5 separate regions of the Homo sapiens genome follow, and regions 2, 3, 4 and 5 are each reported to be linked to region 1. The links are microRNA targets in miRTarBase. Many come from high-throughput screens and were not tested one by one. Region 1 holds a microRNA gene; each other region holds the end of a gene's coding sequence.

Evidence for each region. Region 1 holds the annotated microRNA hsa-miR-4700-5p (UCUGGGGAUGAGGACAGUGUGU, at 1,267-1,288, opposite strand). A microRNA usually pairs through its seed, bases 2 to 8, with sites in the 3' UTR of a target mRNA and lowers its output. Matches are read on the target gene's strand: a 7mer-m8 pairs with bases 2 to 8, a 7mer-A1 pairs with bases 2 to 7 and ends in A, and an 8mer does both.
Region 2: the mRNA of ANGEL1 is a reported target of hsa-miR-4700-5p. Seed matches in the 3' UTR shown: 7mer-m8 at 3,875-3,881.
Region 3: miRTarBase lists FAM193A as a target of hsa-miR-4700-5p. Seed matches in the 3' UTR shown: 7mer-A1 at 1,832-1,838 and 7mer-A1 at 1,885-1,891.
Region 4: miRTarBase lists GDE1 as a target of hsa-miR-4700-5p. Seed matches in the 3' UTR shown: 7mer-A1 at 3,777-3,783.
Region 5: the mRNA of RNF144B is a reported target of hsa-miR-4700-5p. Seed matches in the 3' UTR shown: 7mer-A1 at 1,957-1,963.

What each region holds. Positions count from the first base shown.
Region 1 is chr12:120,720,454-120,724,489 of GRCh38, reverse strand. MIR4700 (microRNA 4700) reads right to left here and starts at 1,297; the gene lies at 1,224-1,297. UNC119B (unc-119 lipid binding chaperone B) reads right to left here. Exons shown (of 5, transcript NM_001080533.3): 5 at 850-4,036.
Region 2 is chr14:76,784,548-76,790,991 of GRCh38, forward strand. It overlaps ANGEL1 (angel homolog 1), which reads right to left. Exons shown (of 10, transcript NM_015305.4): 9 at 6,064-6,227; 10 at 1,462-4,841. The coding sequence ends at 4,681. VASH1-AS1 (VASH1 antisense RNA 1) reads right to left here and starts at 2,177. Exons shown (of 2, transcript NR_104184.1): 1 at 1,538-2,177. RefSeq lists an enhancer at 275-324.
Region 3 is chr4:2,730,115-2,736,558 of GRCh38, forward strand. It overlaps FAM193A (family with sequence similarity 193 member A), which reads left to right. Exons shown (of 21, transcript NM_001366318.2): 21 at 1,661-2,459. The coding sequence ends at 1,754. Among named protein-coding and RNA genes, the nearest start is that of TNIP2, 23 kb to the right of the region's middle.
Region 4 is chr16:19,498,382-19,504,825 of GRCh38, forward strand. GDE1 (glycerophosphodiester phosphodiesterase 1) reads right to left here. Exons shown (of 6, transcript NM_016641.4): 6 at 3,312-5,236. The coding sequence ends at 5,089. TMC5 (transmembrane channel like 5) reads left to right here. Exons shown (of 22, transcript NM_001261841.2): 22 at 1-732. It also overlaps the pseudogene RNU4-46P. Among named protein-coding and RNA genes, the nearest start is that of TMC5-AS1, 14 kb to the left of the region's middle.
Region 5 is chr6:18,463,131-18,469,574 of GRCh38, forward strand. It overlaps RNF144B (ring finger protein 144B), which reads left to right. Exons shown (of 8, transcript NM_182757.4): 7 at 161-250; 8 at 1,797-5,740. The coding sequence ends at 1,937. Among named protein-coding and RNA genes, the nearest start is that of MIR548A1HG, 56 kb to the right of the region's middle.

The DNA.
Region 1 (4,036 bases):
ATCTAAACCAGACTCTTGAGAATTTGTGACTGTAAATATGAACGTTCAAATTTCATTTTAAAAGTATCCAAGTTTTCCAATAGAGACAGAATCAGATAGTGGTTGCAAGAGGCGAAGTGGGGGAAGTCACCTGGCTGCAAACACAAGGAACTCAGGAACTTTCTGAGTGGGTACGATGGAAATGTCCTATATCATGATTGTGATGGGTAATAAAAGTATTCATTTGTCAAAATGCATCAATACTCTTAATTGAGGTAAATTTTACTGTAGTTAAAGTATTTCTTAATAAGCCTACCTTTATGGCCAGCCACAGTGGCTCACACCTGTAATCCCAGAACTTTGGGAGGCCAAGGCGGGTTGATCACCTGAGGTCAGGAGTTCAAGACCAGCCTGGCCAACATGGGGAAACCCTGTCTCTACCAAAAATACAGAATTAGCCGGGCGTGGTGGCATGCACTTGTAATCCCAGCTACTTGGGAGGCTGAGGCAGGACAATCACTTGAACCCGGGAGGCGAAGGGTGCAGTGAGCCACCATCATGCCATCACATCCCAGCCTGGGAAAAAAGAGCGAAACTCCATCTCAAAAAAAAAAACCCTACCTTTAAAACATGCATGTAAACTTTCAATTTACAAAGCCACTCACCCTGGGAAAATATAAAGCAAAAATATTAAGCCTAAAGTCCAGTACAATTCCTCAATCACCCTAGAAGCCAGCTATACTCTAGTTCAACTACTTACAGAAGGGCCACATAATAGCCAAAGTAAGAGAAACCTGGAGCCCCCATTCGCCCCTGCTCCCCTCAGCAACACAACGGGCCCAACAATCAGGAGACAGGACGAGGGAGACGTACTGTGAAAATCTTTCTTTTATTACTGTCTCATGTGGCAAAATAACATTTTATACAAATAAGTCACCTAGTTTACTTTGGACACAAAGACAATAAAAACTGGAATGTGATTTTGGGGGAAGCGGGAAGGAGGAGGAAGGACAGATCAGGTCATTGATGTTTCTTATATTCTGTAAAAAATAGATTTACAGGAAAAAAAATAGACTTTCACAACTTCAATGACTTTACACGGTCCTTTGTAAAACCAGTGGTAAATCCACCTCCACCAAATCCTTCTTGAGGCTGATATGTTCTGTGACATGGAATGTGAGTAACACAATGGTTCAATGATTAGGCTCCTACACCAGGTACAGCAGCACCTGATGCCACAGGAATCCTCGTGCACTGGGGTGAGGAGTCAGTCCTGTGAATTTCAGGACACACTGTCCTCATCCCCAGACCTCACTGACATCATAGTGACACTGGCCATCAGAAGAAAGTGACTTTACAGAGGGGAAAAGAGTATCCTGGAAGCGTACCGGTGGGGCAGGACACACTAAGGCAGGACTCACCCAGTTTGTACATTAGACACAGCCTATTAAATCCATTCCAGAAATGAGTTCCACTTCAACTGAAAAAATAAACTGAAGATTGCCCAATCACTGCCATTTCACAAATTTCCAGTTTATGGTCAGCCCCAAAATCACATTCTTCCACCCTATGTATTGGAAATCAAATGGCCCAAAGACTGAGGTGTCTTCAGGAAGCACATGCTTGAAAAATGTTTTCTCTGCAAAACAGTATTGAGTAATACATAAGGAGACATAGCCTACTTTAGCCCAAAACTTCTTTCACTTGTTATGTCCTTTTACCTCTTAAAACATAGAATGAAATAAACTCGGATCTTCTTTGGAGAAGCTAGAAGGGCATTTTGGCCCAAAGGCTGTACAGGAAAAGAGAGGCTCTCTCCAGGAGACTGCAAGGCAAAGGAACAGAAGCAGGAGGGGCAGGCCCTCTGGCACCAGGTGGGCCTGCTACTCTGATGAAATGTGCTCCCAGCTCTTGACAAAGGGCAGGGTCTCCTATGCAGGTAGTTTTTTTGCCGCCTCCCATTGTATCACCCACAAGGTAACTGCTATCAACAGTTCAGATTCCTTAATAACATGGCAGCCTGAATGGTTCTGTTACTTTCAGAGAAAGTATGCCTTGCAATTCTCTCCCCAACTCAGGTACAAACGCTTGAATTTCAAACTCATACTGGTTTACACCCCAGAGTGGAATGCTTCTCAAGATTTCCTGAGCAGCTAGACACAGGAACCCACAGCCCCAGATACAGAACACCAGACTTTCAGAAGCAGCAAAGCCCTGTCCTGCTGGGCATGGACCAAGCACTATCCGCAAATGGTCTCCAGTGAGACTAAGGCAAGCTAACAAGGAAGAGGATACAGCACAACTCAAGCCAGATTGCCCACCTCCTCCTTCCTCCACATCCTCTTTCTAGCAAAAGCGAACACTGCAGATAAGAGATAGCCCACTAATGTAGCAGATACAGTGTGCCCAGGGGCATGTTTCCAAGACACACTCTACTAAGCACAGCTCTGGGCAGCTCCAGAACCACATCCCAGATAATACTCAAATATCAAATAGTAGAAACTGTCCCACCTGGGCCTCTGTCAAAGAGAGAAGGGATTGTTGTTACGCTTGACAGGAACATGCAAATCCCATTTGAGGAGCCACAATGAGAAACAGAAGGTGAGGAGACAGTGCTAACAGCCCTGGCATCTTTCTGCCAGTGAGGAGGTGGGAACAATGGCAATGCAGCTTTCCCCTGCAGCATAAGGGACAGAGCCACACGTAAGGCACCTGGATTTACAGTGGACGCCAGTTCTGAGAGTGGCCGGTCTGGTGATAAGGAACCCACTCCACAGGAGGAATGGTCTCTCCCCTCTCTCGGGGCTGAATCCAAGGCCAGCACACAGGGGTAAGCTAGGACCTTCTCAGTGAGAAAGCTGCCAGCATGTGGCATTGCCAAGACTCTGGCCTGGGACAAAGCACTGGGCCAAGGTTCGGGGCCACTCGCCCTAAAGCCCACACAGGGAGCAGCACTGGTGGTGGATGGACAGGAATTTCTGTGGCCACACACTGTCTCTTCCATCCCTGGCCCCCATACGGCCTTTCTCCCAAGCACATCAGGACACTCTCCTGTCACAGGTACTGTGACACCTCACAGTCACTTACCAGATACCTGGGCCTTTCCTAGTGACATCCTTCTACTGATGCTAACTGGACCCTGGCCACATCAATCGTCTCATCAGAGGGTTTGTGGAGTCTGTCCACTAAGGGTCTGAGGACAAAAGCAGCCCACAGATGTGCAAGTGAACTTTTTTGAGAACACATCACTCTGACAGGCCACATCAGCCTATTTTGCCCTTTCTGAACACCTAAAACAATTCTAACTAGCAGTCTGAAGGCTCAGACTGCATTACGTAACTCTGATCCACCAGGAAAGTTCCAGAAACTACTTCAGTAGAAAGGTAGATAGGAAAACCCTCCTAAACAAGAAATGTACAAAGAGCTTCGGAGGCAAATCCCCATCAAAAGCCAATCCTCCAGGCTGTGCAGTGCAGAGAAAAGTCAAATCTCTCCTTTAGAAAGCTGCTGCTGATTCGTAAGCATATCCTCCCAACATAAGCCAGATTAGCCCCTGGAAGCTGATACTATCAGAAGTCTAACCACATATCACATATGCTGGGAACACCACTGTCATTTTATAAAACCTCCCCGAAAGAAGTCTGGAAATAAAAAAACAAAATACAAGACCTGCTCTGGCCTCAAGAGATACTACTGTTCCATGAGCAGAGCTGACTCATTCTATTTCATGAGACTCAGAAGGGAGGAGCCAGGAGATGTGGAGCAAGCTTGTCTGTCCTCCAAAATGGGAACAGAAGGCACTGCCAGGCTGAAAACTTGGTCTATTCCCAGGAGGGCTGGCTGAGACCCTGGAAGTCAGACAGAGCAGCAGCCTCTCCACAAAGCAGACCCTTCAGCTTGGCAGCATCACCCATTCCTTGGTGCCTCCACTCTTGGCACCTCCCTCCCTCCCCACCCTTTCAAGTGTCTTCCAGTTGGTTTAAGACTTCACACAGACCGAGGGCAGACTGCGCTGATGGCAATGCCGGAGGTGAGAGGAGGAGCTACCTGGAAGAGG
Region 2 (6,444 bases), not on the chromosome of region 1:
AAGATGAGGAGAGGCCACGTCAGGTCAGCTGGCAGGTCACCTCTCTGAGCCCCGTCCAAATGACAATGTGCACACAGATATACAAACTTTTTCCAACCCTGAGCCTGAAAGGACTTGGTTGTTGGAAGCACAAAACCTCCAAGAATTTTAAGTGTAGGCTCTGTTCTCTCCACAGCGAGCTGAGGCTTCAGGCCTTAGGGTCATAGGAGCTGACTGGGGATGGGACAGAAGTGCAGAGTTCCCTCCACAACCCATGAAGTCCACATTCTCTTGCTTCCAGCAGATCTGCACCCTCACCACCATGCTGCCATCTGGCTGGCCCATACCTGGAACAGTCTTGTCTAGCACATTTGCTCAGGAGGGAGAGGAGAGGGGATGGACCAGAGTGATGGGAGCCCAGGGCTGCAGGGCAGCTCCCCCTGGTGGACCCTAGAGGTGGCCCCTCCCACTCCTGGGAGAAGAGAAGCCACACTGTGCATTTCGCAGCCAATCAAAACACAACCCTCCAATAGAGGGCGGAATGGGGTTACCAGAAGCTGGGAAAAGCAGGGGAGGAGAATGAAGAGCAGGTGGATGGTACAAAAATATGGTGAGGACTAAGTTCTAGTATTTGATAGTACAGTAGGGAGACTATAGTTAACAATTTATTGTATATTTCAAAATAGCTAGAAGAATTGGAATGTTCCCAGCACAAGGAAAAGATAAATGCTTGAGGTGATAAATGTCCTTAAATATCCTGACTGGTCATTACACTTTGTACGCATGTATCAAAATACCATATGCAGCCCCAAAATATGTACAACTATCACATGTCAATTTTAAAAAGGAAAAACAAAACAACCAGAACATTCCTCTAGTTAGTAGCTACAACAGGGCAGGAACTGGAGAGAAAAACAAAACAAAAAAAGCAGCAGCCTCCTGACTGGCCATTTCCCTTCTTGGTCTCCAGTTAAAAGCTGCCTCTGAGCTCCCCCAGCCCCAGGCCCCCACCACCAGCCTCTGCCTTCCAAGATAACCTGTCTTGCCTGATCCTGGAAAGGCTTGTGAGAAACTTGGGGTGGTAAGAAATAAACCAAAGGAGATTCTCAAATTCTATCTCTGGGATTTCTGTTTCCTCAGGTGTAAAGGTAGAATCTGAACACCACCTAAACTGCCACCACACAGTGCCACTGTCTTTGCTAGCTGACGTGGAAGTACTGTGCAAACTTAACAGAAGTGCTGTGGAGATGCTAACTGACTGAGGCAACTAGGAGGAACCCTCCCTGCCAGGAAGAGGTTCTTGGGGATATACCTCAAAGCTTAGGGCTTTCAAATACTTCCTAGCCAATGGGCCCAACTGTCCAGCCTGGCTGGGGTAACGATCTACTCCCAACTCCTACCAATAATTCTCTGGAATTCTTAGCACCTTTTTCTTGCCAAAGCCCAAACAAAGCAATTTCAGATCTGAAAATTCTTCACAAGTAGAAGTGATTATTAACTTTAATTTCTATTTCACCAAGGAATGTGAACTGAAATACAGAGAGGTTAAGTAACTTACCTACAGTCACCAGCTGAACAGGCCAAGAGGACAAATGATGTTTCTAATTCCTAGCTGAGTTTTCTTTCTTTTCTTTTCTTTTCTTTTTTTTTTTTTGAGATGGAGTTTCACTCTTGTTGTCCAGGCTGGAGTGCAATGGCATGATCTCGGCTCACCACAACCTCCGCTTCCCAGGTTCAAGCAATTCTCCTGCCTCAGCCTCCAAGTAGCTGGGATTACAGGCATGCGCCATCACGCCCGGCTAATTTTGTATTTTTAGTAGAGACGGGATTTCTTCATGTTGGTCAGGCTGGTCTGGAACTCTCGACCTCAGGTGATCCACCCGCCTCAGCCTCCCAAAGTGCTGGGATTACAGGTGTGAGCCACCGCACCCGGCCGCTAAGTTTTCTTTTTACTAAATCAATTGAGGGGATCGCAACCCAGGTAGTGCAATGGAAGCAACCAAGTGGCTTTAAATCAATCAGATTCTCAGAGACTGATTCAGAGGCCTGGTGTGGGTTCTGGGAACCTGTTCAGGTAAGACAGAAAACCAGATCTGGTTTCAGGGCTCCCAGTGGGCATGTGGGCTTGGCTGGTCTTACTACATAGGGAGGTTGGAAGACAAAAGCACCAACAGAGGTAGGCCTAGGAAGGAAGAGACATTTTTCCAGCGACAGATGGCCCACTGCTCAGCCCTGGCTCCAGAATGCAAAAGAGATCAGAAATAGATGCTCAGCAAGAGGCATGTGCCACCCGCATCATGTCTCATGCAGCTGCCATAGCTTTAATCAGGAAAACACACATCTTATCCCACTTTGCACAGACCCTCCTGAAGTGCAGAAGATACTAGGAGGAGGCATGGGGGGAGCAGATGGAGGAAGAATGAAAAGCAGTCCAAAGAATCATTCTCTCACTTGGGAAGGACAGAAGAAAGCTGTACCCCAGCAGTGTCAAGGCAGGAGGCTTCACTCAAGCCCTGTTCCTCCCAGGCCTCACAGCAGTGGGAATTTACCTCAGCTAATAGAGGGAGATCTTACAACACATTTCTCAATCTAGATTCATGTCTTGAGACCCCACCCCAAGATCAAAAGCTCCTTAGTCTCTTCCTCTGCCCACCTCATTCTTCAGGCCCTCTCTCAAGGACCTAATCCCTTCAGGATCCTAATAAAATGAACAACATTGGGGGGAAAAAAGGTAAACCTTTATTTGGAAAAAGAGTTTAAATAACAATTTAAAACCCCATTTCACTTTCAAAACAGAAACAAGAAAGCAAGGAAAAGATAATCTATCAAGCATCTGCCCTCTGCTGTGGTTAGCCATTTTAAAGCTGCATTTCCCAGCAGAAGAGAACAGTGATGGGCCCTAGTCCTAGGAACCCACAGGGCACTGTCTTGAGACCCTTTTAGGCAGTGTCCAGGGAACAGACAGACAGAATGAATGGTGGGGTGTAGACAGACCTGGGGCTCAGACAGGCACATGCCCAGTACCCAGGAAACAAAGTTTGAAAATATATACACATAGAAAAATAAATTCCCTAGAACCTAGGCATGGAAAGCTTCTAACCATGAATGCAGCAGCACAATGCAAACTGGGTCTTTGGCTTTCAAAAAAAGGAAAGAACCTTAACCCCTGGCTTACTGTCCCGAACTCAAGTCTCTTGACCACTGTCTTCAGTCCCACTTTGGAGGTCGAGTGAGGCAAGAGCAAGTCAAATCTACCAGGGCCAGCAGCCACTCTGACTTAGGGAGATGTGTGGAGGGGCTGGCCCAGGATCTCCCAAGGCCACACCCCAGCAATGAAAGATTAAGGCATGCAGGTGACACAGTGTGGACTAAGGAGTCCCCTGAATAAGCCAGGGTACCCTTCTGTTAGGGGAGGGAAAGCAGACGCAACAAGCAGCTGAGGCCTTGCTGGACAGAGCCAATCCGCAAGTACTGCCACTTCAAATTCTTGGACCAGTTTTGTCCAAGGCCACCTTTCTGCTGAGGCAGTTTGGCCTGAGCTAAATACCAGGGTTTTCTAGAAAGGAAATGGAAGGGAAGCGGGAGATGGGAGATAGCAGAAAGTAAAAAGTGGTGGAAGGAGAGGAACAGAAAATTGCTTCTTAGGAGTGGAGAGGAAAGAGAATCAGCTTAGGTCTTCAGTCCCAGCTGAGGCAGCTGAAGAGTCTACCTGCTCCTTCCCCTACTGGAACTCCTACCCTTGCCCCAGTTCTGCAGGCTGCAGAGTCCAGTGAAACAAGAGTTTCCTGAAGACTCTTTCTCCTCCTAATCCTTAAATAGTTTTAAACCTCATACCACTACCCTAGCCCAATGAACCCCACATAAGGGTTCAAACTTCCGCCTCCCTCAGGGAAGCCTGGGGAAAGGGATGGCCCTTGTGAAATTACACCAGGTCTGTGGGGAGCTCTGGGTTGGAGGCACAGGGCCAGCTGGGACAGGTAGCGCATCCCCCAAAATTTGCCACTCCAGGATGTGGGCCCCATTTGTTCCCAGAGCCCAGACGCCGGGCCTGCCCTGGTTGGCAGGATGAATGCCTAATGAAACACAGAGGCTAAAAGGAGAGATGGGGCCATGCCCTGCTGCTGCCTGCTCATACATAGGTACTTGGGTAGACTCTGAACCTGCCCCAGGCCTACAGCCCCAACATGAAAAGTGGACTGGTCAGAGGCAGGCATGGCTGTGCAGAAGTCTCACCCCAAGAGGACACATACATGATATGCATATCTCACATATGCATGCCTGGCAAGAGGGCTGGGCCCAGAAGTCCTGAAGGCAGGGAAAAGGTCAGGTCAGAAGGTACATCAAGAAACGGCCTGAAAGCAAATAACCAATGAAATCAAGAACTCCCATAACCCTGGTAATTAAAAATCAAGGGGGAGCGCTGGATACATGGAAGGAAGGGGGAGCCCCCCTTCTGCCTCTCCCAGGGCCACTGAGTGTGTGGCACAGGATTAGGAAGAGGCTGGGGTGGGGCAAGGACCACAGGCAGAGAACGCAGCCAGGCCTGGAGAAAGTCTAACCGTGGGAAAAAGGGAACGAGGAGGGGGAAGGGAGGGGATGTAAGTTTCTTGGATCTAAGTTTCTAGATGCATGGGATTTTTCCACAGTCTCTGATCCAGTGAGCTCTTCTGGAAGAGAAGCTCTCTTCCCCTGGGAGCCCTGTCATGGGGCGGTGACTTCCATCCCGAAGCTGGCTAGCAGGCAGAGGTGGTCTGAAGAGCAGAAGGGGTTGGGTAAGCCATTGGCAGCCCAGAGTATCTCTTCAGAGAGAAGGGAGAGACGACCCAGGAGCTTGAGAGTTCCATCTCGATACAGCCTGTGATCTGGGGCACAAAGCAGAAGCCAATGGGTAAAAGCAGCCGCAGCCACACTGCATGGGCAGGCAGTGGCAGAGTCCTTTGGGAACGCCTTCTGCAGGCTGCATCCCCTTGGCTGCCCACTGCCCCTCACCTCCTCTTGCAGCATCTGGCTGAGGAGGCCCCATTTTCTCAGAGATACTCCATAATATCATCAACGAATAAAGACAGGTGAGTTCCGGGGAACTGGGGCAAGCTGGAGAGCCCACCATTATAAGATCTTTTGATTTTCCAAGAGAAGCTAGAGATCCAGCTTTTCTATATAAAATCTGATTTTTTTTTTTTTTTTTTTAGATGGAGTCTTACTTCGTTGTCCAGGCTGGAGTGCAGTGGCGCAATCTCAGCTCACTGCAACCTCTGACCCCCGGGTTCAAGCGATTCTCCTGCCTCAGCCTCCTGAGTAGCTGGGATTATAGGTACCCGCCACCATGCCTGGCTAATTTTTTTTTTTTTTTTTTTTAAGACGGAGTTTTACGCTTGTTGCCCAGGCTGGAGTGCAGTGGCACGATCTCGGCTCACTGTAACCTCTGCCTCCCGAGTTCAAGCGATTCTCCTGCCTCAGCCTCCCAAGCAGCTGGGATTACAGACACCGTCACCACACCCGGCTAATTTTTTGTATTTTTAGTAGAGACGGGGTTTCATCATGTGGCCAGGCTGGTCTCACTCCTAACCTCAAGTGATCTACCCACCTCGGCCTCCCAGAGTGCTGGGATTACCGGTGTGAACCAGTAATACACGTGCCTGGCCATAACAGTAATACACATGCCTGGCCAAAAAGAAACATTCTTTACACAATACAGGCATGGGGCTGGGAGATTGCTATACTGTGCCCACTGGTATGGGGAGAGGAGACAGAAAATAAGGTCTCTTACCTAACCAAGTCCCTCATTCAGTGGCTGTCATTAAACAAACTCAACCAATTCCTAGATCTCTATTTTTACCTCTAAAATGGGGATTGGGAGTGACTGTCCTACCCTCCTCTCTTTAATGCTGCAAGGGTAAAAAGAGACAAGGCAGGCAAGTGGCCTATGGGGAGAATGATAAGGATGACCAGTGCAAGGGAGGTATGAAATCTGCTCCTTTGCTGGTTAAATCCCAGCAGCTGAAGACATGCTACCAAATGCCTGACCTACCATTAGCTGTTCCCAGGGACCTGGGGGTGGAGGAACCCAGGATCCATCAGGCTTACCAGTTCTGTTCCCATTCTCACAGGACTCAGCTGAGAAGAAGATGTAATCTACTGTCATTCCAAGACCCAATGGCATTGTAGTGACCTCTGGGCGGCCACGCTGGGGCAGGAAGTGGGTATATACTGACGTCAGGTGGAGGCAGTGCTGGATGGTACCTACAGTCCTACAGGGATGAAGGGGGAAACATTAGTTAACAAAAATTACTAAATTTTCCCTAGATCACTTTTTCTATGGGTTTTATGAAGATTTTTTAAAAGGATGATCTCAGATGACTCAATCTCAGCCAATTCCTCCCCATGCTAAGAAGGGGCTGGCAGTCTTAGCTAAAATTAGCCTAGAAACACACATTTGTACTGAGACTCCCTAACACTCCTAATCCC
Region 3 (6,444 bases), not on the chromosome of region 1:
ACGGGCTGGTCTCAAACGCCTGGGTTCAAGTGATTCTCCAACCTCAGCCTCCCAAAGTAGTAGGAAAACAGGCATGAGCCACCATGGCCAGCTTCAGATCTCCTCTTTGGTGTCAGTTTCAGGAAGGAAAAACCAAGAAACAAGAATGTTGACTATTTGCCTGGCTAAGACCTGACACAGGAATCCTTTTAAACAGCTTTAGAGTTGAAAGTTGACTTAATTAGAAGCTGATATTTAGGATATATGTGTATACAATTTTTTCGAGGCCTCTGCTTTCTATAAAAGCTTCTTGGAGGCCGGGCGCGGTGGCTCACGACTGTAATCCCAGCATTTTGCGAGGCCGAGGAGGGCAGATCACAAGGTCAGGATATTGAGAGCATCCTGGCTAACATGGTGAAACCCCATCTCTACTAAAAATAGAAGAAATTAGCTGGGCGTGGTGATAGGTGCCTGTAGTCCCAGCTACTTGGGAGGCTGAGGCAGGAGAATGGCATGAACCTGGGAGGCGAAGGTTGCAGTGAACCGAGATCACGCCACTGCACTCCAGCCTGGGCGACAGAGCAAGACTCCGTGTCAAGAAAAAAAAAAAAGCTTCTTGGCCAGGGAAGAAGCTACAAAAAATACAAAAATTAGCTGGGTGTTGTGGTATGCACCTGTAGTCCTAACTATTTGGGAAGCTGAGGCAGGAGAATCGCTTGAACCTGGGAGGCAGAGGTTGCAGTGAGCCAAGATCGTGCCACTGCACTCCAGCCTGGGTGACAGAGACTCCATTTGAAAAAAATTAAAAATTAGCTAGGTGTGGCCAGGCACAGTGGCTCACGCCTGTAATCCCAGCACTTTGGGAGGCCGAGGCAGGCGGATCACTTTAGGTCAGGAGTACAGATCAGCCTGGTCAACATGGTGAAACCCTCTTTCTACTAAAAATACAAAAATCAGCTGGACGTGGTGGTGGGCACCTGTAATCCCAGCTACTTGGGAGGCTGAGGCAGGAGAATCACTTCAACGTGGGAGGCGGAGGCTTCAGTGAGCTGAGATTGTGCCATTGCACTCTAGCCTGGATGACAAGAGCGAAACTCCTTCTCAAAAAAAAAAAAAAAAAAAAAAAAAAAACCGGTGTGGTGGTACATGCCTGTAGTCCTAGCTACTTGGGAGGCTGAGGCAGAGAATTGCTTGAACCTTGGAGGTGGAGGTTGCAGTGAGCCGAAACTGCCACTGAACTCCAGCCTGGGCAAGAGAGTGAGACCCTGTCTCAAAAAAAAAAGGATTTCACCATGTTGCCCAGGCTGGTCTCGAACTCCTAAGTTGAAGTGATTTGCCCTCCTCAGCCTCCCAAAGTGCTGGGATTACAGGTATGAGCCACCACACCCTGCCTGGGCCTGATAATTTAAGGGCGCTCACAGCTCTCAGATTAAACGTTTCTTTTCTTTCTCAGGACTCCTTCCGCCCACCCATTCCTCCTCCCGAGTCCTTTCCCCTTCTCAAGTGCAGCCTGTAGCAGGGCCTGGAGGGGACCCTTGACACTGTGCCCCTCACCGAGAATCTAAACCCCTGACCCCGCAGTGAGTTTCTGGCAAGAACAGGAGTGTGATGGGCTTTGCCAAGCACCAGCTTGGTTGTGGGCTGTTTCCTTCAGTGACTGTTTGGCTTTTTGTCTTTGCAGGTTCTGCTTGGATTCTGCTAGACAGACCCGACAAAGACTGTCTATCAACTGGTCCAATTTTAGCTTGAAAAAAGCCACCTTTGCTGCCCACTGAATGAGGACTCCCTGGAGAGGGACACGCGAGAGGCAGGCCAGGCTGCACCACCCCAAGAGCCACGCCCCTCGCTGGCGCCCCAGAGCCGTGGTGCTTGCCAAGGGCTGTGCGGAGCTGGTGCTGCCTGAAACCCCAGACCGAGAAGTTGATGCTCGGCCCACGCCGTTAGCTCGTGTGCGTGTAGTCTGTGCGTGAGACTCCTTCGATTGTAGCTCTGTGCTGTCGGATTGGAACAGTAGTTCCCGCCAAGTCCTCCCACCACCGCGGCCTCGGAGGCCTGGGCCGTGGCCAGATAGGAGTTTGCATCATCCACGTGGCTCCGTTGCCTCTGCATTGCGCCCTGTCCTGTCATGTGTCCTCACCGGGGTATCGGCCGTCACTCAGCTCTCCTGTGCCCCTGCGTCTCACCCTAGGCGGGCTGGGCGGGGCAGGCCTCCTTTGTTCTCCACAATCTACTGTCTCCGAGTGTACACGTTGCGCTGTTTGTGTTTGATCCCCCTGACTTGTAGCCAGCTTGTGTAAGATCCCTTGCAGAACGAGAAAGTTAAAAACAAGCCCACCCAGTACTCACACCATCAAGTCTGTTATAGAGTGTACGACTGTATTAACACGGAGGCCTGCCTGGCTACTTTTTTAACATATTGTTAAGTAATATTAAAATCATGTCTTTCTTTTTGAAAGATGGAATACATTAGTACAGCAGGAGACCTCGGCTGCTTCTTTCTGCTGGGGGAGTGGGGGGATAGCGGGAGAGGGCGTGTAGGTGATGTGTCCGCCATGGGGAGCCAGGGCACCACCCCGGAGCAGGTCCCAGGTCTCTCCAGGCAACGGCTCACCCATCCTGGTGCCCCCACCATCCTCTGTGTGCCAGGCAGAGCAGGCAGCAGGAGACAGAAAGCTCCCAAGGAGCTGCATCCTGGTTACTTCTTACTACCTAGAACACTCAGTAGCTCCCACTTCTCCCAGCCTCATGTTCAGCCTGTCTCTGTGTGCCCTATCAGAGTATGACTTCACTCTGAGTGAAGGTGAATAGGGCAGGGCCTGGTTGGGGAGAGGGTAGGGAGAGCCAGCTTCTGGAGGTATTCGGACGATGAGGCCACAGGATTTCCTGGTGGACAGGATGCAGGTAGGAGAAAGAGGTGAAGACCTGCGCTGTGTGCCTGGAGGTGGGACTGGAGACCAGTTCTGGATGGTGAGTCTGGGATGTCCACCGGCCACCCAGGTGAGAGGTCTGGAACTGGGGACTGCTGTTCATGGACAGAGCCTGTGTGAGGGCCCTGCAGGGGTGAGTAGATGGGATGGGGGCCCGAGCTGTGGAACCAGGAAGGCAGAGGAGGGTGAGGAGGCTTCGAGGCAGGTCAGGGGAGACAAGGCCCAGGGCACCCCCACCCAGGCACCGGTTTGCAGGAGAATGAGGTGGGGACAGCAGGTCCTAGAACTCTGGAGATTGCACGAAAGCTGGAAAAGGGTCACCAACCAGGGGAGGTGCAGCACGACGAACTTTCCTCACTTGTTTTTTTTTCCAGGTGTGAGGAAGAGAACGTTCCTTTGTTCGTGGGATGATAGGGCAGAGAGTGAAGCAGGTCAGGCCATGACCACGGCAACAGTAGTGTCCTTGAAACCCCAGTGCAGGCCCCCGGGACTCCAGCCGCTGCCTCTTCTGGCTGCGGTGGTGGCTGGGGAAAGGCCCAGGCCCGGGCCTCGCCCTATGGGGAAGCTGCCTGCCCAGGCCCCCAGTACCTGCCCTGCTCTCCCCATGGACAGCCTTTAACACTGTGCTGAACCATGCCTGTTGCTGAGGGGAACTGCACAGCCCTGAGTGGTGATGGGGAACTCTGGGTGCCCCGACACACTAAGCATCATGCTGGGACCTAGAGACCCTCAGACGCCCACCGCACATGCCCAGTTCTGGGCACTCCCATCACCTCCATGGCAACCCTGCCTGCGGCTTCACAGCTCTGCCCGCTCTGGCCCCTGACCTGCACCTGCTAGCTTTGGCCCTCAGGCTCCCAGCCATTGTCCTGGCCATGCCCTTGCCAGGAAGGATCTTCCTCTATTTCCCTGGAAACCACTCATCCTTCCAGCATCCCAGGGTGCTTATAGGACATCCAGCTCCAGGGTCCCTGACTTGATGGGAGCCCCTGGGGTTCCTGATGACATCACTTCCCTGTGGGGGAGGGTGGGGCCGCCATAGGGGAGCCTCACATTTTTGACTCACACAGTAGCACAGGGTGAGTATCCCTTATCCCTTATCTGGCATCCTCAGTACCAGAAGTGTGTCCAGTTTCAGACTTTTTTGGATTTGGAGTATTTACATCATGCTTACCAATTGAGCATTTCTAATCCAAAAATCTGAAATCCAAAATGCTCCAATGAGCATTTCCTTGGAGCATCATCTTAACACTCAAAAGGATTTGAATTTTGGAACCTTTCGGGTTAGGCATACTCAACCTGTAATAGTCATGAAATGAAACAATAACAATAGTTAGAAAGGAAACTTTAACAGTGAACAGTTGTATTGAGAAGCTTACTGTTTTCTGCACCCTCAGCTCTGAGCCCTGCTCAGAGATTTTGCCTGGGTAGAGAAACAGGCAGTAAAACAGATAGCTCCTAATCTCTTCCCAAAGAAACTGACTTTGTTTGCAACAAAGAATGAAGAGGTTCAAGCCTGAAGGCACTCAGAAACAGTGGAGGCCATGAAACCCTGGGAAGAGAGACAAGATGCAGGCTCAGCTACAGGCCAGATAGTTTGCAGGAGGTAACTGAAGAAAAGAGCTGGGAGAAGGCATCCAGGGGTCAGAAGGAATATCACACAGTGTTCCCAGAAACTCTCTCTTCAAAGGAGTCAGAATTTGATTGGATTTGTTTGTAGAGCATGGTGCCCCAGGGCATTGTTGAAAACAATAGAATTGGCAATTAGTGGTTTAATGAATGTGGTCAGGGAAAGAGGAAGAGAACTCTACCAAAATGACTGTCATCCCAGGGTGACTGTGGGCATACGCAAAGCTACACACCCTGAGGAGCAACATCATAGCTGGAATACTAGTGGGTAGTAGAAAGAAAACAATGATATAATAAGGCTGCATCAAATGAATATAGAAATTATTTTAAAGGAACCAAATGGAAATTATGGAATCTGAAAAGTTACGTGTGTATATATATACACACACATATATATACACACACACATATATATACACACACACAGAGAGAGACAGATGGAGTCTTGCTCTGTCACCCAGGCTGGAGTGCAGTGGCACCATTTTGGCTCACTGCAACCTCCAACTCCTGGGTTCAAGTGATTCTCCTGTCTCAGCCTCCGCAGTAGCTGGGACTATAGTTACACACCACCATGCCTGGCTAATTTTTGTATTTTTTGTTGAGACGGTGTTTCACTGTGTTGGTCAGGCTGGTCTCAAACTCCTGACCTCAGGTGAGCTGCCCACCTTGGCCTCCCAAAGTGCTGAGATTACAGGCATGAGCCACTGCACCCAGCCTAAATTTTAAAATTAGCAGAAGGAAAAATAAGTGGATTTGAAGATAGGCTGATGGAGATTATGCCAGCCAAAGAACATAGAGAAAAAAATAATGAAAATAAAGAGTCTCAGAAAAATGTGGGACACCATTAAGCATACCAGCCTATGTATAATGGGAATATCAAAAGGAGAGCAAAGAGCAAAAAAAATATTCAAAGAAATAATAGTCGAAAACCTCCCAAATTGAAAAATAGTAACATGTATCCCAGAAGTTGAAAATGTTTATATTAAGAAACAAGAAAGATCTCACTCAAATCAATAAACTAACTTGTCACCTTAAGACACTGGAAAAAGAGCAAACTAGGCCTAAAGTAAGCAGAAGGAATAAAATCATAAAAATTAGATCAGAAATTAATGAAATAGAGGATGCAAAAATAATGGAGAAAATCAACAAAACCAAAAGTTTTAAAAAGGTAAACAAAATAGACATCTGTAGCAAGATTGACCAGGGAAGGATTCAAATTACTAGAATCAGAACTGGCCACACAGAAAAAGGATTTTAAAGGAATACTAGAACAATTATATGCCAGCAAATTTGGTAATTTAGATGATATCTTAGTCCATTCATGCAGCTATGACCAAATATCACAGACTGAGTAATTTATAAATAATAGAAGTTTATTTCTCACAGTTCTGGAAGCTGTGAAGTTCAAGAGCAAAGTGCACCAACAGATTCAGTGTCTGGTAAGGGCTCACTCTCTGCTTCCAAAGTGGCACCTTGTTGCTGTATCTTCATATGGTAGAAGGGCAAAAAGGGGAATTAAGGTGATCCCTTCAACCTCTTTTATAAAAGCTGTAATCCCTTTCATGATGATGGAGCACTCATGATTTGAACACTTCCCAGAAGGCCCCACCTCTTAATACTATCACCTTGGGCACTAAGTTCTAACATATGAACATATAAACCATAGCAGATGAGATGGACAAATTTCTAGACAGGAAGAAGCTACAAGAACTGACTCCAGAAGAAATAGACAATCTGAATAGACCTATAATGAGTGAAGATGTTGAAATAGTAATTTAAAACAGGGAAAAGTACCCACAAAAGCTCAAGCCTAGAAGTCTTCACTGCTGCATTTTACCATACAGTTAGAGAAGAATTAAAACCAATTTTTCAAACTTTCAGAAATAGAAGAAGGAACACTTCCCAACTA
Region 4 (6,444 bases), not on the chromosome of region 1:
AACATGTAATACTCCAGCAGGGATATGAAGCCTCTGAATTGTAGAACCTGCATTTATTTGTGACTTTGAACTAAAGACATCCCCCATGTCCCAAAGGTGGAATACAACCAGAGGTCTCATCTCTGAACTTTCTTGCGTACTGATTACATGAGTCTTTGGAGTCGGGGATGGAGGAGGTTCTGCCCCTGTGAGGTGTTATACATGACCATCAAAGTCCTACGTCAAGCTAGCTTTGCAGTGGCAGTACCGTAGCCAATGAGATTTATCCGAGACGCGATTATTGCTAATTGGAAATTTTCCCAATACCCCACCGTGATGACTTGAAATATAATCAGCGCTGGCAATTTTTGACAGTCTCTACGGAGACTGAATAAGAAAAAAGAAAAGAAAAGAAATTAGCTGGGTGCGATGGCTTATGCCTGTAATCCCGGCACTTTGGGAGGCTGAGGCAAGCGGATCACTTAATGTCAGGAGTTCAAGACCAGCCTGGCCAACATGGTGAAACCCCGTCTCTACTAAAAATAAAAAAACTAGCTGGGCGTGGTGGTACATGCCTATAATCCCAGCTACTCGGGAGGCTGAGGCAGGAGAATTGCTTGAACCTGGGAGGCAGAGGTTGCAGTGAGGCGAGATTGTACCACTGCATTCCAGCCTGGGCAACAGTGAGACTCTGCCTCAAAAAAATAAATAAATAAATAAATAAAGTAAATTAAAAGTCTTATTCAAACCAAATATGAAACTGGTGGTGATGTGTGGAATGTGTGTGTGTGTGCACATATGTAATGAATACGTGTGTGTATAATGTTTTTGCAGGTTTGCCAAATGATTCACAAGCCACGTGGCTGTTCTTAACACTGAAAGGTCCAGCAGAAAGGTGCAGTTACTCAGGAGAGAGGAGCCTCCTCTTAAGTAATCACTCGCATAAAACCTAATTGGAACTGAATTTAGAAAGCAGTTAAGATACATTCGAAACACAAGCACCCAACCAGTGCTGTCATTTATTCCCTTTTTTTTTTATTTTTAAGAGATAAGGCTGGGCTGTGTTGCCAGCTTTGACTCAAACTCCTAGGTCAAGCAGTCCTCCCACTTCAGCCTGCCAAGTAGCTGGGACTACAGGCACACGCCACTGCACTTGACCACGCACTTTTTCATTCACTTATTTTTTTCATTAATTCACTTCATCGGAGGAATTAATTTCTTTTGGTGTCATCTTTGGTAACAGTTGTATGTAGTGTTCATCCATCCATTCATTCAACAAATATGGACCAAATAGTGGTGAGCAAGATGGTGAACAATTCATGGTGCTGCCTGTCTAGCAGGTTTAGACATGAATTTAATTCTTAAGCAATAATTAATTACAGTTGTAGTAGATGCTCTGAAGAAGCACAGGGACTAAGGGAGACTTGTCTGTGGGGTCAGTGCAGGCAACCCATGGAAGTGATGTTGGAAGTGATTTTATTCCCCTTGGGGTCATCTTAGTGCTGTTTGTGCTTTTTTCTTTGCTTTTTTTTGAGATGGAGTTGGAGCCTCCCTCTGTCTCCCAGGCTGGAGTGCAGTGGTACAATCTCAGCTCACTGCAACCTCCCCCTCCTGGGTTCAAGTGATTCTCCTGCCTCAGCCTCCCGAGTAGCTGCGATTACGGGAGCGTGCCACCAGGTCCGGCTAATTTTTGTATTTTTAGTAGAGACGGGGTTTCACCATGTTGGCTGGGCTGGTGTTGAACTCCTGACCTCAGATGATCCGCTCGCTTCAGCCTCCCAAAGTGTTGGGATTACAGGCGTGAGCCACCATGCCCGGCTGCTGCTTGGGCTTCTACAATGAAATCTGAACTCTCTCTGAAAGCATCACTTCTGCTCATTCACCAGATGCTAAGTGCTTCCATCTAGAATGCTTCTCCCTTCACCTCCATCCCTTGTCTCCACTTCAGTGCAGCCCTGCTTCTCCTGGAGGTGTACATGCAGTGGATAGTGGCTCATGCCTGTAATCCCCGCACTTTGGGAGGCTGAGGTGGGCGGATCACCTGAGGTCAGGAGTTCGAGACCAGCCCAGCCAACATGGTAAGACCTTATCTCTACTAAAAATACAAAAATTAGCCGGGCGTGGTGGCAAGCGCCTGTAATCCCAGCTACTCAGGAGGCTGAGGCAGGAGAATTGCTTGGACCCAGGAGGCAGAGGTTGCAGTGAGCTGAAATCGCACCACTGCGCTTCAGCCTGGGTGACAGAGTGAGACTGTCTCAAAAAATAAAGAAACTACTGTACATGGAAAGCATTTTAAACAGTCTAGGACATGGTAGGCAGTCAATAAATGTTAATTAGCAAGGATTTTACATGCACTCTTTCATTTAATCACTACCACCGCAAGAATACTACCCCTATTTTACAGATAAATTCAGTAACTTACCCAAGGTCATATAGCTGGTAAGTTGCTGAATAGGAAGGCAGACTTGGCTTTCTCTGATTCCAAATCCTGTTATTAACCCTATACTAAGCCTTCCAAGGAAGTGCTTAATAGTAGTTATTAATACCTTATTTCATCATTCAAATTCTCCACCTTTTGAGGCCCTGACCATCTTAGCATAGGACCTAAATCCTTAATTTGGCCTGGCTGAATCAAAGGTAAAATGGATTTGGGATAAAGATCAAGAGACAGAGATCTCATGGCTCTCCAGAGATCTTCCCACAACACAAAGGGATATTATTATTATTATGAAATTTTTAAAGATTGGAGTCAAACTCTGTCCCCTAGGCTGTAGTGCAGTGGCACGATCCTAGCTCACTGCAGCCTCAACCTGCTAGGCTCCAGTGATCCTCCCATCTCAGCCCCTATTTGTAAATTTTTTGTAGAGATGGGGTCTCACTATGTTGCCCAGGCTAGTGTTGAACAGCCTGTTGAACAGCTAGTGTTGAACAGAGGTATCTTTTTTTTTTTTTTTTTTTTTTTTTTGAGACAGAGTCTTGCTCTCTGGCCTAGGCTGGAGTGCAGTGGTACAATCTTGGCTCACTGCAACCTCTGACTCCTGGGTTCAAGCAATTCTCCTTGCTTCAGCCTCCTGAATAGCTGGGATTACAGGCATGTGCCACCATGCCCAACTAATGTTTGTATTTTTAGTAGAGATGGGGTTTCCCCATCATGGCCAGGCTGGTCTCAAACTCCTGGCCTCAAGTGATCCACCCACCTCAGCTCCCAAAGTGCTGGGATTACAGGTATGAGCCATCACGCCTGGCCTGATGTATCTTCTTTGGTCACTTTTTCCTCCTCCTTTCACTCTAGTCATAACATGGCACGGAAGTACATGCAGTTTAGACATTTGTTGCACTCAATGAACAAATCTTTGTTGTTTATTTTAAAATTCAAGACAATTTTTTTGCAAATGCTGATTCAAAACGTACCAATCCCCATCTATCATGCCTATGCCAATACAATCTGTCACAAAAAAGTTTGCTTCTCATTGTCACATAGCTATGGGGACTGGTGGCCTTCTAAAATCACTGTCCAGCTGCTGCAAGTGTGAGGCCAGCAACCCACGGCAGGGATGCAGGAGGGAAGCCATGGCTAAGCTGTGGGCCTGGACAAAGGCCACAGATGGGGTTGAAAGGTGAGAAGCGGTAAGCTAGAGGAGACAGACGGCGTTGCCATTAAAAACAATTCAACTTCATTTTAATGTTGCTATGTAAGTTCACAATAAAATCCCTGGAAGTTCAAATTGGAAAGAGCAGTTTGGGGTCATGGGCTCAACAATATAAAGGCAGATTCAGTGAGGGGTAAGGGTAGTGGCTCTGGGGGCAGACTGACCTAGATTTGAATGCCAGTTGTACCAGACTCAAGACACCTTGGGTAAGTGGTTTTATGAAGTACCTCAGTTCTTCATCAGTAGAAAGAGTGCTAACACCTCCATAAGACTTTTGTATGGATTGAGTAAGATAATGCATGTTAAACCACTTGTATAGTTTCTGGCTAACTGTAAACAAGATGTTCTAGAAGTTCTAGTTATCTTTTTTTTTTTTTTTTTTTTTTTTTTTTTAAGAGTCAGGTTCTCACTGTGCCACCAAGGTTGTAGTGCCGTGGTGTAATCATGGCTCATTGCAGCCTTGAACTTCTGGGCTCAAGTGATCCTCCCACCTCAACCTCCTGAGTAGCTGGGAATACAGGCATGCACCACCATGCCTAATTTTTTAGAGATGGGGTCTTGCTATATTGCCCAGTCTGGCCTCAAGTAATCCTCCTGCCTCAGCTTTCTGAATTGCTGGGATTATCGGCATGAGCCACTGTGCCCAGCTAAGCTGTGACTTTTGAGGCAACCCCTTCCCTTCCACAGAGTTTAGTTTCCTCATTTGTAAAATGAGGACAAACCTAGATATTTTTGGAAGTTTCTTCCAGTTCTAATTGCCTATGATCAGATCACATCTGTTGCAGAGCTTCCTAAAAAGCCTGGAAAAATGCAACTCTGCCCCCTGGTGGTTTGCAGCTCTCTATTCAAGATGCTATAAATCCCTCATTGGCTTCAAGACCTCCCTACCATTTTGGTTGCTGTACACTGAAGCCTCACTGGATTGCATGGTGGCTTCCCCAAATTCCGTATGCCTTAGGATATGATGCTTGGCACACAGTTTTCCTTTAGTGCTCCTTTTAATAATTTTATTAGTATGGCCACAAGTTTGATGTCTACAGTACATGTTAACATAGCTGAGTACAAATATTTGAAATAAGTGTGGCAAGTTTTAAAATGTCAACTCTGAGTTATCATGCATGTCCCATGCATTTACATCTGCATCTGCAAACTGTACAATTCAATCTGTGCTTATCCTCACTGGGTCTCCCTGTGTGCCTCAGCTAGGGCAGGGCAGGGGCTCTTGTGCGTTTTTTCAGACCCAGATTTTCAAGAGCAACAGTGTTGAACTCTGGCATGCCATGGTGCATGGTGGCAACACCGGGTTTAGCTTTGGTTCAGGTAAAAATGCAGTGACCAACTATTGCATTTGTGTGAGTCACCTGATTCCCCAGGGCCTGGGCTAGCACAAAGGGTATTTTGATATCCCTGTATGAGGCCCCTGGCAGTTTCTGAACCCGTTTCGTCCCACCGTGAAAGTCTAGAAGTGAGGTTCGCAGTCTTCTACCATGCTGTCAGTGATATAGCTGGAACCAAGATGGGATTCGTAGTAACTCTTTTCATCAAAGGTATTAACAGTCCAACCAACAACCTGGATTCCTTTAGCTGACCACTTCTTCAAGTAGGCCCTGGGGAAAGAGGAAAGCCAATCCTGTTAGAATAATAAGCAGCTGTCTCAGGAATCCATAATGGCCACTAAGTATGGTGTTCACTGCATACCAATGGTGCCCAGAGAATGCCTCCTAACTGGCCTCTGCACTGTGATCAGAGGGACTGTTCCAAAACCCAGGATGCCATGAACCTCCTCTACACTGTCCCAGCTTAAAACATTTCAGTAGCTCACTAATGATCGCCACCCCCAAATGTCCTTGGCACAGCCACTGAAGGTGTGCCTGACCTGGCCCCGACCTGTCTCCTTGGCTTCATCTCACACCACATTCCCCCTTTCTTTTCTGTGCTGATTAATTTTAAATTAATTGAAAGAATATTAATTTTCTTTCACTTCCTGGAAAGAACCATGTTCCTTCCTGCCAGAGCACATTACATGTATTTTTCTCTCTGATCTGGATTCCTCCCAATTCCCACTCACCCTTCAGATCTTAGCTTAACTGTCACTTCCTTGGGGATGCTGTTTCTGACAACCCAGACCAGATTAGATTATAGCCCATGCACAGTTTTCTCTGACATAGCCTGTATCTTAGTTTTAACTTTATATTGATTGGATTTTTATTTGATTAGCATCTCTCACTCTCCCACTTGGCTATAAACGTCACGAGGGCAGAGATCATGGCTTTGATTCTTTACCCACTGCATCTTCAGCTTCTCAACATGGAACCTTGCAATAGTATAGGCACTTACCAAATATTTATTGAACTGAATCATGTATGTCTGAAATAATACTAGACCTACAACTCTAATTAGCTGAAATATACAGATACAGAATTGCCAAAGAAATGATTCCGAGATCGCTAGCAGGTTAGGAAATGGAAATTTTATGGGGAGAGGTGGGGGAGTGCCTATAACATAAGACGGTAGTGGGGAGGCTGGTGCCCACAGGATGTCTTCACTGTGGTTCTGCCCAGGATCCTGTGTTGGCTTTCAAAAAAACCAGTCACAGAAATAAAATCCCTTGCTCAGCATAGTGTCACAGGTTCATTTTTTTTCTTCAAAATACACTAAAAAACCGAAAATATGTGATCGACTCGGTCTGAAAACAGTGAAATATGCCTGAACTCTTCCCACCTAAGAAGCGAAATTGGTAATCCAATTTAGAGGTATGGTAAGCTTTGCAGGTCAGAACCAATTCAGGTTGTCTACTCTGTTAATCCTTCCTTTC
Region 5 (6,444 bases), not on the chromosome of region 1:
AAACTACCAAGATAAAGATTACAGGCTTGGAATTCCTAGAGGGGGTCACTGATATCACCAGAGAAAAACTTTGCCTTCCATTTGGTGATCTGATGTGGTCTGTATTCATTTCTCAATTTAAAACTGCATATTTACTGAAATCAATCTTTTTATTTTTCAGAATGACATTTTCCTCAGACATTATGACAAAGGGCCATGCAGGAATAAACTTGGCCACTCAAGAGCATCAGTGATGTGGAACCGAACACAGGTACCCTGACCTTATAGGGAGCGTGACATAAACCAAAATCGTGATGGCTTAAAGAGCCCACCTCTTCGCCTTTCCTCATTATTCCCTCCTGGGAGGTACCATCCCAGCCTGGGAGCTTCTGGGGAGTGTTAGGGCAGGGCTAGGGAAAAGTAATGGGGTAAATACCTAAAGTTAATTCATGAGCACAGTCTCCTTAAGGACAAGCGGAGAAACAGGGGCACCAGAGCTGCCAGGCAGTCAACAGTGACGTGCAGAATGCAGGCAGATGTTCTTTCCTCTTGAGAAACAGTGGAATGACTTTCCTAAAGCCCTTTAAGGCATATTACCTATCAAAGGCAGTGTATTAGTCTGTTCTCACACTGCTAATGAAGACATACCTGAGACTAGGTTAGTTATTAAGGAAAGGGGTTTAATGGACTGACAATTCCACATGGCTGGGGAGGCCTCACAATCATGGCAGAAGGCAAAGGAGGAGCAAAGTCATGTCTTAAATGGTGGCAGGCAAGAGAGCTTGTGCAGGGGAACTCCCATTTATAAAACCATCAGATCTCATGAAACTTATTTACTACCACAAGAACGGTATGGGGGAAACCACCCCCATGATTCAATTATCTCCACCTGGCCCTGTCCTTGACACGTGGGGATTATTACAATTCAAGATGAGATTTGGGTGGGGACACAGCCAAACCATATCAGGCAGTGCTCTAAAACCCTGTGAGCCCCTTCTAGGGCTTAGATCCCTGTGTACATGCCATTGTGTGTTTATGTGGCAGGTTCAAAAGGAGTCATGGTTTATTTTTAATTTTTAATAGTGTTTTATATTTATTAAAGGCGGTATTCCTTTGGAGGGAGTCAGTGCTAATATCCTAGTAATCATTAACATCCCTTTGAGCTAGTTGAGGAAATTCAAGTAGAGAGAGAGCACCAATACCAATAATTCATGACTATACTGAGCTTGCGACAGCTTGAGTTAGCATTTGGATGGTTTCCATCCTTGATTTGGTCCTTTGTATCTCTCTGGCTTCTCTCCAATTCAGATCATTGCTGGGCACTAGCTGAAAGGTCCCAGAAATGTAACTGTTCTGTGTGCCTGAGATGATGTCTTGTTCAGGCTGCTATAACAAATGACCATAGACTGGGAGGCTTAAAGAACAGAAATTTACTTCTCATAGTTCTGGAGGCTGAGAAGTCTGAGGTTCAGGTGACAGCATGGTCATATCTTAGCAAGGGCTCTCTTCCTGGTTTGAAGATGGCCATTTTTTTGCTGTGTCTTCACATGGCATAGAGCCTAGAGAAAGAAAGCAAGCTCTCTGGCATCTGTTCTTGTAAGAGCACCAATCCCATCATGAGGGCCCTGCCCTCATAAACCAACTAACTTCTAAAGGCCTCGTCTCCAAATACCGTCACATCGGGGATTTAGGGTTTCAACATATGAGCTTCAGGGGGACACAAACATTTGGCCCACAGCAGATAACAGTATAGTTGGAATAAGTATACATATTGAAAGACTTAATTGCTGAAATATGCTTTTCTTTGAAATTTCCAGGTGGTGGGGATTCTCGTAGGCTTGGGCATCATTGCCTTGGTTACTTCACCCTTGTTACTCCTGGCCTCCCCATGTATAATCTGTTGTGTCTGCAAGTCCTGTCGGGGCAAGAAGAAAAAGCACGACCCATCCACAACCTAAAGATCTCTGTGTTCATACGCCCCAGATATGTGAGTTACATGAGATGGCACAGTGATAAAGCCCCATTTAGTGACCTTGCCTCCTTCTCCTTGCCAACTTTGAAAGTGCCTCCGTGTCCAGACTTTGAACTTGCCTGCCAGCCTTCAGCATCAGGAAAGGCCAAGTCCTGGGTGTGAGTGTTCCTGTGTAACAAGAACTGGGCTCAACGGTCCAGCTGTTTCTATGGAGCTTTGGGGTTCCTTGAGATGAATGAACATATCATTTTATCATCCAAAGGATCTCACTGGACTGTTCAACTTCCAGCCAAATTCAAGGAGCTTGCGGGAACATTTGATATAACAAATGTGTTGTCATTGTTGGCAACATACAAGATAACCAAGAAGCTGGAGTCTGTTCTGTGTTGATTTGACTGCCATGAGAAACACAGGGGAAACCTGATGAGGAGAAGGATAAGACTGCGTAAGGAGAAATCCTCATAGGAGCTATAAAGCAGGCTGCTGATCTCAGCAGTTGATATGGTGGTTGTGCCTCTGCTGGCTACTGGGTGTGCTGTCCCCATGTTCCCGCTGTGATTTGGCAGAAACACAATAGGCTTCTCCTTGTGTGATCTCAGCTTCAAGCAGGTGAAACTGCTGTGCAGAGGGAGTTGCCCCTTCCCAGTAAAAGAGTTGCAGCCTGTTAAACAATGTGGTCTAATTTAGTGTCTCTCCCTTGGCAAATGTAAGTTTTCTAAGTTGGCCAACTTGTCTCTTACAGCCAGTGGCTGTGGTCTACAGAATTGTTTCATATAAAATACGGGTAGAGTGGTAGAGTTTCAAAACTTTCGTCATAGATATCTGGGACCTTTCTCAGGATCTGTGTTCACACAGCCAATAGATTTGGAATCAGGCCTAAGAGTACACATGGAGGGTAAATATTAAAGTGCGTATTATGTACATCTAGAATCCATGTGACTTGCAGCCTACCTGTAATTTCTATCCATTGAGCATGCATGGATATACCCAATAGTACACACAAAATAAATGTTTACTTAAGAGCCATTCTATCCTTTTGTGACTGAAATGGTTTATTGTAAATCTGCCTAAAGATTTTTTGCATATTATATATGTGAATTTTGGTTGTAAGTTCATAACTTACCCAAGGGTATAGACTCATAACTCTTTTAAAACAGTGCTTAGTACAATATCCTGCCATCTCTGTAAAAACGCTAATTGATAACCGAGTCATTTACATGTTTTCGAACACAGAATAGCTCTTTTCTCAGCATCATTATTGCTCTTTCAGCATCTGTTAGGACAGTCTGAATACTTTCTGTTTCAAGGCACTGATAAAACCGCAACAAAAACATGTAAGAAATAAAATAGAAATGCTTTATATAATTTAGTTTAAATTTATGTATCACCTCATTGTGACTTATTTTTTCCATTATACCATTAGTCAGATTTGAATAACGAGGTTTTGAAAGGATAAAACCTTTTCTCCAATGACAGGATTATATAATTGCTATTGGCAATGTAGCCTGGTGCTTCATGAGACCTATGCTAAATGTTACTGGAGAGTTCTTGAAGCCAGGGATACCATATCAGGAACTATTCAGGATCTATGATATTTTCTGAGGTAACTGGGTAATAGAATATCAAATTGCTGCTATCTCGGACCTATTGTTAAAGGATGATGCTTTGCCTATGTAATAGGATATATCCTAAGTGGGGATGTGTATATTTCAGGAACTTTAATTCACAAGTATATATTGATATCTGATGTGTGTATAGTACATCTGTTGGTTATGTACATTTTAATTTACATGTTGTGTAGAACATAGATGAGAACTCTGGGAAAACTTGGGAATGGCAACCAACCAAAATCATTTTTAATCATTTATTAGAAATTTCTCAATATTGTGTCTTTTTCTTTTGAAACTCTAAACACTTCAGAAAAAAACACTATCAGTGTAGTTCATGTTAGTATAATTATAGATTTACATATATTTGAATAGTTAATTTGCTTTGTTTTACACGTAGCCCACTGCCTCATTATAGGTAAAAGGCATTTATAACTGCTCAGGGGATTACGAGAACTCAACTGAAACTGAATTTTTGTAACAAGAATGTTAATAGTGGCAAAGTCCTCTGTCAGTAAACTCTTTAAGCTTGGTGCTGCAAAGAGTCTTTAAATGGGGGCTGATTTCAAGTAACCTAAAAGACTGTGTTATCAGAGGAAGAGGTCCCAAATTTGGAGTAAAGATGGGAGAAAATAAATATGTGCTATTTCCTTGGCGAGTTGAGGGAATTTGCCACCTTACAGAGTTTGTATCACTGAATTAGCTGCTTTTGTTTTTTTTTTTTTTTTTTTGCCAGGGCTATGGAGTGGGGGTTGTTTGTCAAACTGATTTTCAATAATTGGATTTAATTTTTTTTAACATTGAAAAGTGCCTGAAAAATGGTAAATTCTTAAATGTGTGTGAGATTGTCAGAATCAACAAAACTAGGTTGGTTAAACATATCTCTGGTACATCAAGGGGCATGATACAAACCAGTCTAAAGACTGTTTATAAAGGAGAGAGCTGGCGACTTATTTTTATTTTTATTTTTTGGACAGAGTCTCCCTTTGTCACCCAGGCCGGAGTGCAGTGGCATGATCATGGTTCACTTCAACCCCTACCTCCTGGGCTCAAGTGTTCCTCTCACCTTATCCTCCTGAGCAGCTGGGACTACAGGCACACACCACCACACCTGGCTAAGTTTTGTATTTTTTGTAGAGATGGGGTTTCTCTGTGTTGCCCAGTCTTGTCTCAAACTCCTGGGCTCAAGCGATCCACCCACCTTGGGCTCCCAAAGTGTTGGGATTACAGGTGTGTGTCACTGTGCCTGACAGCTGACAGTTTTAACTGACAACTTTGATAACAGAGGCTGCTATTTTTGTTTTAGATAATTGGCCAGTGACAGAGTTTACCCTTGCCTCCTTTCTTGGTCTGCCAGCTTTGTCCTTTCTGAGTGATTCTCTTTCTGTATTGAGAGGAAGTGTGGGTCTACATAGGGATGTTTGGATGCTATGGCAAGAATCTTTTTGTGTTTGGAGTGTAGTCCATTTGCAATAGAAATAAAAAAATCCGTCACCAAATTGTAACCTGGATGTTATAGCCCAGCATCTAGAAATCCTATGAAACGTATTAGCACAATATCTTGCCATTGTCCCATCTAGGAAATTTTTTCTTGTTGTGAGGTAGGGAAGTGAGGAGGAAAGCCATGCCGAAGCAAATGTTAGAATCTTAGGCATCCTATTTGTTCATGCCATGGGTATTTGCTTTGGACTTGGAGTCTGTACTTTGAAAGAGGCCTTTGAAAAACAAATAATTCTGTGTGAATTTTCTTGTAGCGTGCTTCATGAAAATATCTACTTATCCAGGTTTGCAAATGTACATGTTCATTTGAATGTAAATCACCATTTCTTGGAACCCCACGTTTTTTCTTAAAAATTATTCTGAATTAAATGTATATTTCTTTAGCCTTCCCTACACAGTACTAATAAAAGACTTTTCTTTCTGTTCATGAATGGATGCCTTTATGTGATATAGAGTCATGTGTGTATGTGTAGCTTTAAGGGCAATTTCAGAAATGCATTAGATGAATGACATTTTATAAAGCGATCACAATTGATATCTACAGGCTATTATGTCTCATGTTGATTCATGATCCAGGAAGTTTTATGTATTTAAAAAATTGCTATCGTGTTATATTTTTCCAATTTTTGGAGAAGAAAATAGCTGTTTAGGCTCTCTAGCCACAATAAATGTAAGCAGGAAATCAAGTGTGTTAACCTTTGTTGCGCTGCACAATTCTAGGCATGTTCAGTTTTATCCTTTGAGAACCAACCAAGTTACTGTTAAATCCTAGGTTCTGAATTTACAAAATGTACCAGAATTTGCAATACCATCTATGGAAATAACTCTTGGCTACTTTACTTCTTAAAAGAAATAGGGTCAGGGGGTCAGGTGTGGTAGCTCACGCCTATAATCCCAGCACTTTGGGAGGCCAAGGTGGGCGGATCACCTGAAGTCGGGAGTTCGAGACCAGCCTGGCCAACATGGTGAAACCCCGTCTCTACTAAAAACACAAAAAATTAGAACCCTGTCTCTACTAAAAATACAAAAAAAAAAAATTAGCTGGACATGATGGCACATGCCTGTAGTCCCAGCTACTTGGGACGCTGAGGCAGGAGAATTGCTTGAACCTGGAGGTGGAGGTTGCGGTGAGCCAAGATTGTGCCATTGCACTCCAGCCTGGGCAGCAAGAGCGAAACTCGGTCTCAAAAAAAAAAAAAAGGGGGTGGGGGGGTGGCAAGTGTAATGCCTTTGTTACACACTTTCTTCTTTGTAGGTGTGATAGTCCACACTGCCAGTGCATAGGAACTCATCATTATCCAGAGCAATAACCAATAATACAGATCTTTGATCATTCTAATAAAAAATGCTGCCAAGTGTCAAAGCCATTTGTTCTGTACAATAAAG